Homo sapiens: one gene and its partners. The protein of the gene in region 1 purifies or fractionates together with the protein of each later gene. This does not show direct contact. Each region holds a gene or a part of one and is shown in the gene's direction. Other genes may lie near its edges.

Region 1 (3,500 bases):
TCTACCATTCAACAGCCTTGTGACCTTGAGCAAGTTACTTGGCCTCCCTGATACCCACGCAGCTCCCTCATTTGTAGAATGAAGGGTCACAGGAGATGGCTACACTCCCTTCTGGAACATTCAGTGGGACTGTGCTGTCCGTGGAGTGCTCAGAGCTACATGCAGTTAATCACAGAAGGCTTACAGAGGAGATGGGCCAGGCCAGAGTTATTCTGATTTTTTAGACACTGTGATATGAAGAAGTAGCTGTGAATTCCTGGGCCAGGTGTTTTCAGGTACCTAGTTCTTGTCTAGGACAAGTATGTCTTGGAAAGTGGCCACCATTTATACATTTATACGGTTTCACCTCAGCTGCCGCCAGGACCTGAAGCAGCACACAGGTTCTTTTGTCTTAAAGGGCCAGCTAGCCTAAGCAGGACACCTGTTTGCTGGCCAATCTTCAAATCTGGTCTTTTGGACCCTGGAATTTCCTGCAGCCACTTCTCCCCTCTTCCCCAGACTATTCCCAGCTAATGAGTCCTTCTGCAGCTCATAAAACTTGAGCTCCTCAGCAGGTTAAATGACTCCCAGTCTGAAAGAAGGAATCTAAAGCCCCAACCCCTTTCTAAAAAGTAGCAATTTACACAGACACTGTCAATTAGCTTCTTGCCTTGTTTGGGTTGCCTTGAGTCACTTCCCATCATAAACTCAGATGGCTTTAGCGAAGTCATTTTCTTGTTTTGCCAGCATGATTATGTGATTCTTCACTCTCCTTCCAGAAATAGCAGTCTGGGTTGCAGTGACTGGGCCTCGGAGCTGCTTTGCCGCCTCGGCACCCCAGTCCTTAGCAGGGTGCCCAGACTTGTAGCTGCTACTCCTCCCGCCTGGTCCTGAAGTCTCTTTTCTGACTCTCTAGTTTCAGTGCTGTGGAAAAGAAAGCTCCGAACAGGTCCAACCTACATGCCCAAAGGAGCTTCTAGGACACAAGGTAAGCTTCTACCAAGGTTCTTACTCTACCTGTAGTATCATGCTGCTAGCTTAGGAAGCCATTGAAGGTAGAATCTCGGATGGGATCTGCATTTTACTGAATTTGCTCTAGTGGCAGCATAGAGGATTGATGGAAAATGAATAGCGTTGAGCTGAGAGACCCATTGGGAAGGCTGCTGTCCTTGTTGTTAGCAAGAGATGTTAAAGAGGGCCCTTTAGAAAGTGACAACTACAGGAGTGGTGACCAGAGAAGAGAGGAGAATCCATTACTGGGTTTTTGGCTTCACCACCTACATAGATGATGGTGTCATTTATGGAGCTGAGGGAGAGAGGAAAAGGAGCCAATTGTGGAGAAAAGAAAATGAGCTTTGTGTTTAACATGGTGATTTTGAGGAGCCAGTGGCACTTCCAAATGGAAATATCCAGTAGGCAGTTGGAAAATCTGGTTTGTGGCTCAGGAGAGAGGTCTGAGTGTCAGCACTTGATGGGAAACTTAAAGCTATAAATACGGATTTGATCCATTAGACTTGGAAGAAAAGAAGGATGAGGATAGATCCTTGGGGGACAATTTAAGGGTGGGCAAAAGAAGAGATGCCAAAGAAGGAAACTGGGAGGGGCGGCCAGACACAAGTGAGGAGACAGCACGGGAAGGGGAGGGAATGGTCACCAGGCCCAGGTGCTGCTGTTGAGGGCAATTCAGTATTGATCAGCTGCCTACCTTATGTTCGGCACTGTGGATGCAAAGGAGAAGGAGAAAAAGTTCCTACTCACAAGGAGCTTGCATTGCAGTCTGATAGGAGGGATGAACATGAAGTCCATACGGTCCAGTGATTAGGAATGCATGGAATGTGCAACGTGCTCGGAAAGCACAGAGGGAAACGCACTTAGGAGAGGCGAGAGGCTGGGGGATGGGGAAGGCTGACAGAGGTAATGATGTCTCAGCTAAATCTTCAAGAATGGAAAGTAATTATGCAAGCATTGGGCAGAAAGCGGGAGGGGGAGGCCTGCGTGCCGAGAGACCAGCGTAAGCAACAACACAGAGGCAGAAATGACATGGTTTGTGTGGGGAACTGAAAGCCTAAGAAGGTCTACTAATAACTGCTGAAAAGCTGGCAGGATTTAGCATGCAAGGAACCAACTGGTGACGTGCTGTGAGGGATGGATTGAGGACAGAGCCCAGGTTTCAGAGAGCGAGATGTGAGGAGAGAGAGCATCCTTTCAAGAAGTTTCGATTTGAGCCAAGGACACAGAAAGAAAGTTTACAAAAGTCAAAGTCCAAATTACCATTAAACATATAGAAAATATAGAAAATTAAAAGTAATATTTAAAATCAATAGCAAATTAAAATGAAGAGATGCTGTTGTTTAATCTATGAAATTGACCAAGTGTTTTTCCTTTCCCTTAACAATAATACACAGTTTTGGTAAACGTGATGTCGTGAGCATTTTCAGAGAAATTAGTAAATAGTTTTAAAGGTCAGTATGACTATGTAAGACTAGAGGATTAAGTATGTTTATGCCCTTCTATCCAGAAATTCCACTTCTCGGAGTTTATTCTAAGGAAAAGGAATCAGAAATGCAGACAGACGTTTTTGTGCAAATCATGCTCATTACATGTTATTCATAAGAACAAAACACTGGACAGACCCTTAATATGTGGCAATAGGGGATTGTTTGGATAAATTGTAGTATATTCATATGATGAAATGTTTTACCACCATTAAGAATCATGATTTCACCTGTAATCCTAGCACTTAGGGAGGCAGAGGCAGGCAGATTGCCTGAGCTCAGGAGTTTAAGACCACCCTGGGCAACATGGTGAAATCCCGTCTACTAAAAATACAAAAATTAGCCAGGCGTGGTGGCATGTGCCTGTGATCCCAGCTACTCAGAAAGCTGAGGCAGGAGAATCACTTGAACCTGGGAGGCAGAGGTTGCAGTGAGCCGAGATCGCGCCACTGCACTACAGCCTGGGTGAGAGAGCGAGACTCTGTCTCCAAAAAAAAAAATAATCATCATAATCATGATTTCAAAGAAATTTTTAGTGAAACAAGGCATTTTTAAAGTTGTAATATTAAGTTTAAAAAGCTCACTGTTGAATATAAAGAATGACCTAAGGGTGTAGGTGTGTTTGTGTGTGTAAGTATCACCAACAAATTTATTACCTTTTATGGTGAGAATACAGACATTTCTTTTTAAAAAAAAAAAAATCTCTTTTCCAGATTTCTACAAGAAGCATGTATTCCTTTTGTGACTAAAGCCAATATACCTTTTGTACATTTGTTTTTTACAAAAAGAAGCTGGCAATGAAGGGAAGGAGGGCCTAATGGCAGAACTAGAGGAGGACAGTCTCGAGTGTTGTTTTGTTTGTTTTGATTGAAGAACTGAGCATGGTGATAGGATAAGTAGAAATGTCAATGGATAAGGAGAGGCTGAATGTATAGGAAGGAAAAAAAGTAACTGGCAGTGCAGGCTTCCTGAGGAGCTGAAAGACCCAAAGCAGGATATGAAGTTAACTGTCTTTTATTATTATTT
Region 2 (3,500 bases), on another chromosome or scaffold:
GAATCACGTTGGGAAGTTTAGGACCTGTATCCACACCCACTAATAGCCACCTTGTTTCAGAGAGAAATGAGAGTGCAGAGGGATTTTCCAGGATGATCCTTGGTTATAGTAGGTTACTTAGAGTGTGGGGGAAATCCTTAAAGCCGGTTAACATGACAGAATGGGTTCTACTGTGAGTTGCTGCCACAACTGGCACCCTTGTTTTCTTGTTTCTCTCCTGGATCCCTTTGGATATGTTTCTTCTCTGGGCCTCAGTTTAGTTATCTGTATAATTGGACTAGACTGATTCATCTTTGAAGACTGCTACAAAATTTCTGTGATGGGATTCTAAACCTTTTTATAACCATAAATGACTGCTCTAGAATGTGTAACTATTATAGGGAAAGATTTATTAATTATTTATTGGAATTGGGTAATACATGTTCATATTTTAAATATATATAATTAAAATATATACAAACATATGTATTAATATATTTTTAATTTCACAATAGAAAAACATAACGGTTTTTGAGTTGCAAAACTAGGTCCTGCTGTTTCTCCCTTCTTTCTCACCATCCCTCGTTCTTTTTTTTTTTTTTGAGACGGAGTCTGGCTCTGTCACCCACGCTGGAGTGGCACAATCTCAGCTCACTTCAACCTCCACCTCCCAGGTTCAAGTGATTCTCGTGTCTCAGCCTCCTGAACAGCTGGGATTACAGGCATGCGCCACCACGCCCAGCTAATTTTTATGTTTTTAGTAGAGATGGGGTTTCGCCATGTTGGCCAGGCTGGTCTCAAACTCCTAGCTTCAGCTGATCCACCCACCTCAGCCTCCCAAAGTTCTGGGATTACAGTTATGATCCACCGCACCCAGCCCTCTTTCTTACTCTAGGACTATCAGTAAGTGAAACTCCACCCAGCAGACCACAGAGGCAGCTGTCTACATGAAAGATGGGTGGCATGTTTATGGAAAGTTTTGTCCTAAAAGTCTTTGGGGTTTGTCGTGATTGCTGTGATAAACAGCCCAACTGTTGACTAAAAAGCATCTCAGGCAAGAACTGGTTCCCAGATTTCTGAGAATTTCTGTTAATCTGTAGAGGGTGTGTGTGTGTGTGTCTGTCTGTCTGTCTGTCTGTCTTTTGTTCCAAATACAGGTAAGTGCCAGGGCATTGGAGTGGTATACATTTTATCAGATACAGAAGAAAATAATTTCTGCTCAGAGTAACTTCGTTAGTTTTTTTCCAGCTTGGAAACTTGCTTGCTTTCTAATTATAGACTGTTGTTGGGCAGGTTATGAACTAAAACCAGTTCTATAGAACTTCAGGCTCTGTTCTTTTCTCTTGGACATGAGCAACCAGAACAGGTGAAACAAATTTGGAATTGCTTGAGTTAGGCCTGGATTTTTCATTGTTCCTTGTCCTGGACTTTAGGCACTCAACCTAAATATGTATTTTACTTGTCTAGAGGAAAATAAAAACAGCTTGACATGAATTTTGTTATATGCTTCACTTCATGAATTATTATTTTAATAAGTATTCCAGAATGAACTGAGTAGGAGCCCTTTGATGCTTTGCTGCCAGCCAACCCACTCCTACTTGCAGGGTATGCAAAGGAATTTCCTTGAATTTCAATCCTCCATTTGAGTTCTTTGTGTTGATTTGATCTTTGTTTTGCTTTGCTTTTTTTTTTTTTTTTTTTTTTTTGAGACGGAATCTCGCTCTGTCACCCAGGCTGGAGTGCAGTGGCACAATCTCGGCTCACTGCAGCCTCCGCCTCCCGGGTTCAAGCAATTCTCCTGCCTCAGCCTCCCAAGTAGTTGGGATTACAGGCACATGCCACCAAGCCAGGCTTAGTTTTGTACTTTTAGTAGAGACGGGGTTTCACCATGTTGACCAGGATGGTCTTGATCTCCTGACCTTGTGATCCACCTGCCTCAGCCTCCCAAAGTGCTGGGATTACAGGTGTGAGCCACTGTACCTGGCGATCTTTGTTTTTCTTTACGGCTCAGAAGAAACATTTGGGTAGGTTATAGGTCAAAGTCAAGGCTTTGTAAAGGGTTTTTTACATTCAGGAGCCTTTCCCCAATTTCATTTGTTCATTTTTAAATACCAATTTTTTTTATTCATCAAGGAATACATGGCCATTGAAAAAAATATGAAAATAAAAATAAGCAAATGGAAATAAACTCCCCTTATCCTACTATACTGTAGTCTTTGGTATAATTTTTCAGTTTCTCTAAGTATCTTTTTATTTTTTAATTGAGACAGGATCTCACTCTGTTACCCAGGCTAGAGTATAGTGGCACCATCACAGCTCCCTGCAGCCTTGACCTCTGAGCTCAGATGATCCTCCTACCTCAGCTTTCCAAGTAGTGGGGACTATAGGTGTGTGCTGCCACACCTGGCTAATTTTTGTGGGGTGTTTTTTTTTTTTTTTGGAGAGATGGGGTTTCGCCATGTTGCCTAGGATGGCCTCAAACTCCTGGGCTCAAGCGATGCATCCGCCACCTCGGCTTCCCAGAGTGCTGGGATTACAGACATGAGCTACCACACTGGCTTAGAATCTTTTGTGATGCTGGGAATTAGATAATATTAATCTATAAGAGTTTCAAGGCCTCTTCATTCACTCTCCACTCTCTACAACCTGCTGAAGGGGATTGTGGTTTTGATTCATCAGATTCTTTCCTTCCTCAGGCGTATAAGGGAATTTTTTCTTTCCCAGACCAATTCCGGGGTTGTCTCAGAAGACAGGGCATAATCCAGATAAAATAAAACAGAAAGAAAGTGCAGAGAGGCCAAGTAGACCCAGGTAACACAGAACCAAGAGGGAGGGGAAGAGGGCAGAGAGAATAGCACATGTGCTGGGTATTGGGGAAGGTTGGGGCACTGGGGTGCTATAGACTGGCACAAGAGGATCTGGAGGATGAGCAGAAAACCAGGATTTGGATTGGAGAAGGAACAGCTTCGCTGTGGTTCATGAACTGAAATTCCATTAATGTTGTTGGCGAGATGGGACAAGTAGAGATGGACTTTTGTGGTTGGTCTGTGCCAAGCGGCGGTTGTGGGTTGGAGAGCAGCTGCTTTTATGTTTTTGTATTTCCTTTTTTATATATTCATTTTATTTCTGATTATGAAATAATATACTAATTATAGAAATTTCTATTTCTTTTTTTTTTGGAAACAGAGTCTCACTCTGTCACCCAGGCTGGAGTGCAGTGGCGCAATCTCGGCTCACTGCACCCTCTGCCTCCCGGGTTCAAGTGATTCTCCTGCCTCAGCCTACCAAGTAACTGGGACTACAGGTGCCTGCCACCATACCTGGCTTTTTTTTTTTTTTTTTTTTTGAGACATAGTTTTGCTCTTGTTGCCCAGGCTGGAGTGCAATGGCACCATCTCGGCTCACTACAACCTCCGCCTCCCAGGTTCAAGCAATTCTCCTGCCTCAGCCTCCGAGTAGCTGAGATTACAGGCTCCCGCCACCGAGCCCAACTAATTTTTTGTATTTTTAGTAGAGACAGG
Region 3 (3,500 bases), on another chromosome or scaffold:
GTCCTCTTATTTCAGGTTTTTTTATTCATTATTCTTCCCTGGGCTCATTGTATGTGGAACTTTATGTGTGTGTTTGGTCATTGTCCTTTGGGGAATCAGACTGCTGCTACAGAGAAAGAAAAAATTAGTGTCAACTAGCAAAAATGGGAAAAATCAAATGGTGATTGCATTTTTTCATCCATACTGCAATGCTGGTGGAGGAGGAGAAAGAGTTTTATGGTGTGCTTTAAGAGCCCTGCAGAAAAAGTAGGTATCCATCTTTCTTAGCTAATTTGCTATATTGTTCCATTTCTTAAAAATTATTATCCAGAAATTCATCTTTTTTTTTTTTTTTTTTTTTTTGAGACAGAGTCTTACTCTGTCACCCAGGCTGGAGTGCAGTGGCACGATGTCGGCTCACTGCAAGCTCCGCCTCCCAGGTTCATGCCATTCTCCTGCCTCGGCCTCCCGAGTAGCTGGGACTACAGGTGCCCGCCACCACGTCCGGCTAATTTTTTGTATTTTTAGTAGAGACAGGGTTTCACCATGTTAGCCAGGATGGTCTCGATCTGCTGACCTTGTGATCCGCCCACCTCGGCCTTCCAAAGTGTTGGTATTACAGGTGTGAGCCACCGTGCCCGGCCTCATCTTTCTAAAGTACCTAAAGTAAAAAATGAATTCCTTTTTAAACTGTTCTTCAATAAGAAAATATTTCTTTCATGTGCCCACATACCTTATATGATCTTATTTGACTTTAGTTACTATGATAAAGAAATAGACAAACCCAGGCATGGTGGCTCACACCAGTAATCCCAGTACTTTGTGAAGCCGTGGCAGGTGAATCACTTGAGCCCAAGAGTTTGAGACCAGCCTGGGCACCATGGCGAAACCCTGTCTCTACAAAAAATTATCTGGGCATGGTGATGCGCACCAGCTTCTCCAGAGGCTGAGGTGGAAAGATTGACTGAGCCTGGGAAGTCAAAGCTACAGTGAGCCATGATTGTGCACTGACTGCACTCCAGCCTGGGTGACAGAGTGAGAACCCGTCTCAAGGGAAAACAAAAAAGAAAGAAAGAAATGGACAGTGGATGGGGAAAACATCTGCCCTTTTATGGCATAAATTAATGGGAATAACTGGTCCCCTTGGGAGAGCATATACAGAAGAGATTAAGTAATTGACAGAAATATACCAAGTATGTCAGAGCACTTTAAGCCTGAATACTTTCAGGCAGTTGTGGCACACAGGAATAATCTTTATGAAAGTATCTATTTGACTCAAATTTTTATATCATTACCAGCTGGATAGTCTCAACTTACCATGTTAGAAGGAATATGGTGTTATACATCTTTTAATATTTGAGGCTTCGTCATCACCACCCCCCATACCCCCAAAATATTTATGATTCTCTTTTAGAAAGGAAAAAGCATAGTAGGTTCCATTATTTTATCATATGAGGAAAACTGTTACTCTTCATGGTTACCCTACTTCCTGGTACACACCCTTCATTCAGTGCCAAGGCCTTCACACAGAATTACCTCAGCTATACTTTTCTGTAATCCTGGCCCATCCTAGCTTCCAGGCCCTACCCCTGTATTTGCTCTGCCATCTTCTGTAACTGCCTAAATACAAAGAATTCTCATAATTCCCAACTCCGTGATGCTTTTCCTACTCTCGTTGATAATACTTTTTTCTTCTCTAACCAGATTATCTACCTCTTGATGGCGGTGGTAAAGTTTCATGATATCTGTACACATAGTCCCCAGCAGCCTCTATTACTCCTAACCCATCTACAAGGAGAAAAAAACCAAATCATTAATATGACTTGGAAGATACTTTTTCATCTTGCTCTGGCCACATTGCGTTTCTCATCCCTCCCCATTCCTTCACAGGTACTTTACTCTGACATGCAGAACAAGGAGCAGCTCCCTGAACACATCATGCTCTCTCTCGAGTCCTTCCCTTTCTATATAGTGTTCTTTTCTTCTGAAATAACCTTTTTCTCCCCAGTTAATTTCTACAAGCCTTTCCTAACTCAACACATACTACAGTGCACTTTTCATTCGACCTAGCAGTATTTATTGGGGACCTGCTATGTGTCAGGCACTGTTCTGGGGGTTGAGATTAAGAGAACAAGATCGATCAAGTCCTTCTCTCCTGGACGTTTGATTTTAGTTGAGAGAGACAAGATAATAAGCAAAGAAGAAAAATATCAAATAGTGAGACGTGCTATATAAAAAGTTAAAATAGGGTAATATAGGAGTGACTTGATACTTTAGATAGAGTGATCAGGGAAATATCTGATAACAATCAAAATCTGAATGACAAAAACAGCTGCATTCACTGCGTGATGATTGTATGTTAGGTATTGTTTGAAGTGCTTTACATGTGTTAGCTCACTTGATCCTCAGAACAGCCTTTTGCAGTTGTTACCATTATCCTCATTTGACAAAGAAGAAAACTGGGGCACTAGAGCCCATGTTCTGAACCACATGCTAAACTGCCTGCCTTATGAAAAGACAGTGAAAATGAGAAAAGAGAATTCAGAGTAGAGAGAACAACCACTGCAAGTCCCCTAAGGCTGGTTGGAGCTTGGCGTGTTAAAAAAAAAGAATGCCAGTTTGGCTGCACCCTGGAGGGCAAAGGAGAGCATGGGAAGGGAGGTGACAGAGGGAGGCAGGTTCCAGATCACACAGGACTTGAGTGAGCAGGGAAATTAGTTTAGATTTTATTCTAAGTGCTATAGTAAACCAGTTTTGGGGTTACTGTTCTGTGACATGGTTTAGGGGCTGCCATGTTTGGTCTCCATCATACTGTTGCAATTAGATGGCAGCTGGGGCTGGAGGCATCTGAAGCCTTTTTCACTCACATTCTGGTTCTTGGGCTGGGATAACTGGACCTGCTGGGGGCTGTCGGGCATCTCTCTCACTGAGGAGCTTCTTCATGTGACTTGGTTGTGCTTGCATACAACATAGCAATCTCGGGCTGGTTGGACTCCGTACATGACAGCTGTCTTCTCCTAGCATGAGCATTCCAGGAGACAGGAAGTAGGAGCTGCCAGTCCCTTAGAGTCTATGTTGGGAAACTGGCACAATGTCACTTTTGCCATATTCTGTTGGTCAAAATAGTCACAGAGCCAGGTGTTATTCCAGGGGAGGGGACTTAGATGCCACCTCTCAGTGAGAAAAGTATCAAAGAATTTGTGGCCCGTCCGGGCACAGTGGCTCACACCTGTAATCCCAGCACTTCAGGAGGCCAAGTCTGGCAGATCACTTGAGGCCAGGAGTTTGAGACCAGCCTGGTTAACATGGCAAAACCCCTTCTCTACTTAAAAAATACAAAAATTAGCTGGGCATGGTGGCACACATCTGTAATCCCAGCTTCTCAGGAGGCTGAGGCACGAAAATCACTTGAACCCGAGAGGTGGAGGCTACAATAAGCCAAGATCACGCCACTGTACTCCCGCCTGGGCGACAGACAGAGCGAGACCCTGTCTTAAAAAAAGAAAGAAAAAACAAATGGA
Region 4 (3,500 bases), on another chromosome or scaffold:
GCGCACACCGCCACACGCGGATAATTTTTTTGTATTTTTAGTAGAGATGGGGTTTCACCGTGTTAGCCAGGATGGTCTCAATCTCCTGACCTCGTGATCCACCCGCCTCGGCCTCCCAAAGTGCTGGGATTACAGGCGTGAGCCACCGCGCCCGGCCTGATTTTTCCATTCTCTTATGCACGGGGACTCATGCCTATGGTCCCAGCTGCTTGGGAGGATGAGGCAGGAGAATCCTTTGAGTTTGGGAGGTCAAAGCTATAGTGAGCCGCGTTCATGCCACTGCACTCCATCCTGAGCAACAGGATATCAGTAATCACGGGTCTCAACCCTGAGGCAGTAGTTTCAATTTTACTTGTCTTTCCAGCCTGAGAATAAGCTCATTGAGGGCAGGGACTGTGTCTCTCACCACAGTGTTCACAGCACCTAGTATAGGGTCTCGCTTTCATGCTCAGAACATAAATTGCAAACCAAAAAAGCCTTGATTGTAGTTTGGCTATTTGAGATGCTGCAGTGGGTCTTTTTAAAGCTATTATAACCCTAAGACTGCAAGCAATATATATTTTATTCTGCTTATGGTTTGAATTTATTAATTGGACAAATATTTTGTTATGTATCTGGGCTGTCCAGCGGTGCAGAGCACACACATTCTGTTCTCACAGCTTACTGACATTTACAGAGTTTTCATTATATTCATCCTTAGAGCAGACTAGAAGATTTGTCTTAGAAACTGTTTGTTAGAGACCTAGGTACCTTGAAATAGTCTTGTACCGTTGGATGCACTAAAAGCTCTCTCTTTATCTTGCAGGTGGTCACCATGGGCCTTTTCCGCACTATTGCTTTGTTTTACCTTGGAAGTTTTGACAGCATAGTTCGTCGCTGCATGATGCAGAGAGAAAAATCTGAAAATGCAGACAAAACTGCCTAATCTTCTTACCCCTTGGAAGAAGACTGTTTCCAAATAATTTGAACAGCTTGCTGCTAAATGGGACCCAATTTTTGGCCTATAGACACTTATGTATTGTTTTCGAATACGTCAGATTGGACCAGTGCTCTTCAGGAATGTGGCTGCAAGCAAGGGGCTAGAAGTTCACCTCCTGACAGTATTATTAATACTATGCAAATATGGAATAGGAGACCATTTGATTTTCTAGGCTTTGTGGTAGAGAGGTGAAGGTATGAGAATTAATAGCGTGTGAACAAAGTAAAGAACAGGATTCCAGAATGATCATTAAATTTGTTTCTATTTATTCTTTTTTGCCCCCCTAGAGATTAAGTCCAGAAATGTACTTTCTGGCACATAAAGAAATCTTGAGGACTTTGTTTAAACCTTCCATAAAAAAACAATTTTCGGTTTCTCGGGTTCTCTCTCTCTCTCTCTCTGTCTCTCTGTCTCTCTGTCTCTCTGTCTCTCTGTCTCTCTGTCTCTCTCTCTCTCTCTCTTTCTTTCTTTGTGTATTTTATTCAAGATGAGTTGGACCCATTGCCAGTGAGTCTGAATGTCACTGACAGCCCTGTGTTGTGCTCAGGACTCACTCTGCTGCTGGTGGAAACTCATGGCTTCTCTCTCTCTTTGATCCCATAAAGCTACGAGGGGGACGGGAGAGGGCAGTGCAATGGGAAGTAAAGAGATATTTTCCAGTAGGAAAAGCAATGCTTTCTTGTCTTTAGACTCAAATGCTTAGGGAACGTTTCATTTCTCATTCATGGGGAAAGGCAGCCTCCTTAAATGTTTTCTGAAGAGCGGTAAAATCTAGAAGCTTAAGAATTTACAGTTCCTTCAATAACCATGATGACCTGAAGTTCACCTATCCCATTTTAGCATCTACTTGTTTTTCCCATCTCTTCCTTTCCAATTTTGCTTATACTGCTGTAATATTTTTGTAAAAAAAAAAAAAAAGGAAAAAAAAGACCAGCTAAAATTTTCGACTTGACTTTTTAACTTAACTCATGAATTAATTAAAGCAAATGAAAAAATTAAAAAGTGTGACTTTTTCTCGGAGCATATATGTAGCTTTTAGGAAAGGCTGATGATGGTATAAAGTTTGCTCATTAAGAAAAAAAGACAAGGCTGATTTTGAAGAGAGTTGCTTTTGAAATAAAATGATCACCTGTTCTTTATGTGACTCTCCCACTGAACCTGCAGACATTATTTTTATACCACATGCTAAGGAAGCCCACTCATCTAACTCTGTAGCCCTGGAAACCCTCTTGGCCCCTGAATGTTGTTTCCAGGTTATAGGATCTGTGTTCATTAGTGGATTTTGACAGCAAGTGCCTCTGATGAGTTTTAGCCAACATTCCCCGTTGCATCCTGCTCATTGTTCACACTCCTCTGACTTGAGGAGAGCTGCCTTCACCTTGATCTTGTAACCTGTCTTCCTTGCATATACGGTAGCACATTCCAGATCACTTCGGTGAGAAAAGACCTCTGTTTTTGAAGAGGAAACTTTCTTAAATTGTAAAATAAAACTTAAAAAACATAAAAACTCTATACAAAAATTGAAGACCTAAAAATTATAGCATACCTTTTTTTTGCTCTTGAGTTTTTGAAGCTCTTGACTTTAAATGACTTAACTTTTTAAAAAATAAGATGTTTTATGGCTTTAACCCATGTTTTTATTAAGATCTGAGAATAGCATATTTTAAACACTGATAGATACAGAAGAAATTATTATTTAATATATAAATTGCTTGGAATGATTTCATTGCAGCTTGTAAGGATGGGTTGATGCCAGAATGGTTTCATAAATCTTTCAGTCTTACAGAGCCAAAGTTTGCAGATTATATCGAGTTGCGTTGTGCAGCTGCTAAAATGGAATCATAGCTTTTTATAATTTGCAGAAAACAATTGCATTAATGTCTGGATGTTTCTCAGTTTTATTCTTTTCTCATAAATGTTCCTCGAATGTTGGCACCTTCTACTGCTGATCTATATTAGAATCTAGTCCAAGAAAGTGTCTGATTTAATAACATTAAATAGTTATTTCAATATATTTTTTCAAATTATCCTCATAGAACCTGTTGCCTCCAGTGAGATGGTAATCTACTACCCGAATAAATTTAAGAGCACCTGTTGAGAGCCCCTGTTTTGCGGTAGAAGACAATTGTCCCTATCCCAATTTCCACTGAAATATGAGAGCAGATTTGCAGAGACCATCATGTCAGAGAAGAAATTTCCTTGTCAGAGATGTTAAAGGGCTACAGTCCCTTAGCAAAGAAACTTCGAAATCTAAGTTGGTTTGTGTTTTTCTAAATTTGATACCGTAATTCATTTGGCAGCAAAATCTGACTTGAACTGATGTGAGAGTATTGTACTTTATATTTATGCTACTTCATTGTGACTTAATTTTCCCTGAAGAAATATCCATGGATTTGATTATAGGTTTTCCCTTAGATGCTGTGGAGGTGTTTTGTAATATTCAAAATATGCCCATATTGCCTTTTTAAAACCCCAAAGATTATGAATTCTGAAACACATCCAGCCCAGCGGGTTTTGGATA

What was found.
Region 2: the proteins of TSPAN2 (region 1) and ARL6IP5 purify together in Homo sapiens (affinity purification with mass spectrometry; 2 studies listed by BioGRID and IntAct, with this or other methods). This does not show direct contact.
Region 3: the proteins of TSPAN2 (region 1) and ALG11 purify together in Homo sapiens (affinity purification with mass spectrometry; one large-scale study listed by BioGRID and IntAct). This does not show direct contact.
Region 4: the proteins of TSPAN2 (region 1) and KDSR purify together in Homo sapiens (affinity purification with mass spectrometry; one large-scale study listed by BioGRID and IntAct). This does not show direct contact.

What each region holds. Positions count from the first base shown.
Region 1 is NC_000001.11:115,055,004-115,058,503, reverse strand, and holds part of TSPAN2 (tetraspanin-2), read left to right. Parts: intron 1-895; coding exon 896-967; intron 968-3,500. UniProt on the Homo sapiens protein: May play a role in signalling in oligodendrocytes in the early stages of their terminal differentiation into myelin-forming glia and may also function in stabilizing the mature sheath.
Region 2 is NC_000003.12:69,094,937-69,098,436, forward strand, and holds part of ARL6IP5 (PRA1 family protein 3), read left to right. Parts: intron 1-3,500. UniProt on the Homo sapiens protein: Regulates intracellular concentrations of taurine and glutamate. Negatively modulates SLC1A1/EAAC1 glutamate transport activity by decreasing its affinity for glutamate in a PKC activity-dependent manner.
Region 3 is NC_000013.11:52,018,898-52,022,397, forward strand, and holds part of ALG11 (GDP-Man:Man(3)GlcNAc(2)-PP-Dol alpha-1,2-mannosyltransferase), read left to right. Parts: intron 1-15; coding exon 16-246; intron 247-3,500. UniProt on the Homo sapiens protein: GDP-Man:Man(3)GlcNAc(2)-PP-Dol alpha-1,2-mannosyltransferase that operates in the biosynthetic pathway of dolichol-linked oligosaccharides, the glycan precursors employed in protein asparagine (N)-glycosylation.
Region 4 is NC_000018.10:63,329,207-63,332,706, reverse strand, and holds part of KDSR (3-ketodihydrosphingosine reductase), read left to right. Parts: intron 1-805; coding exon 806-925; 3' UTR 926-3,500.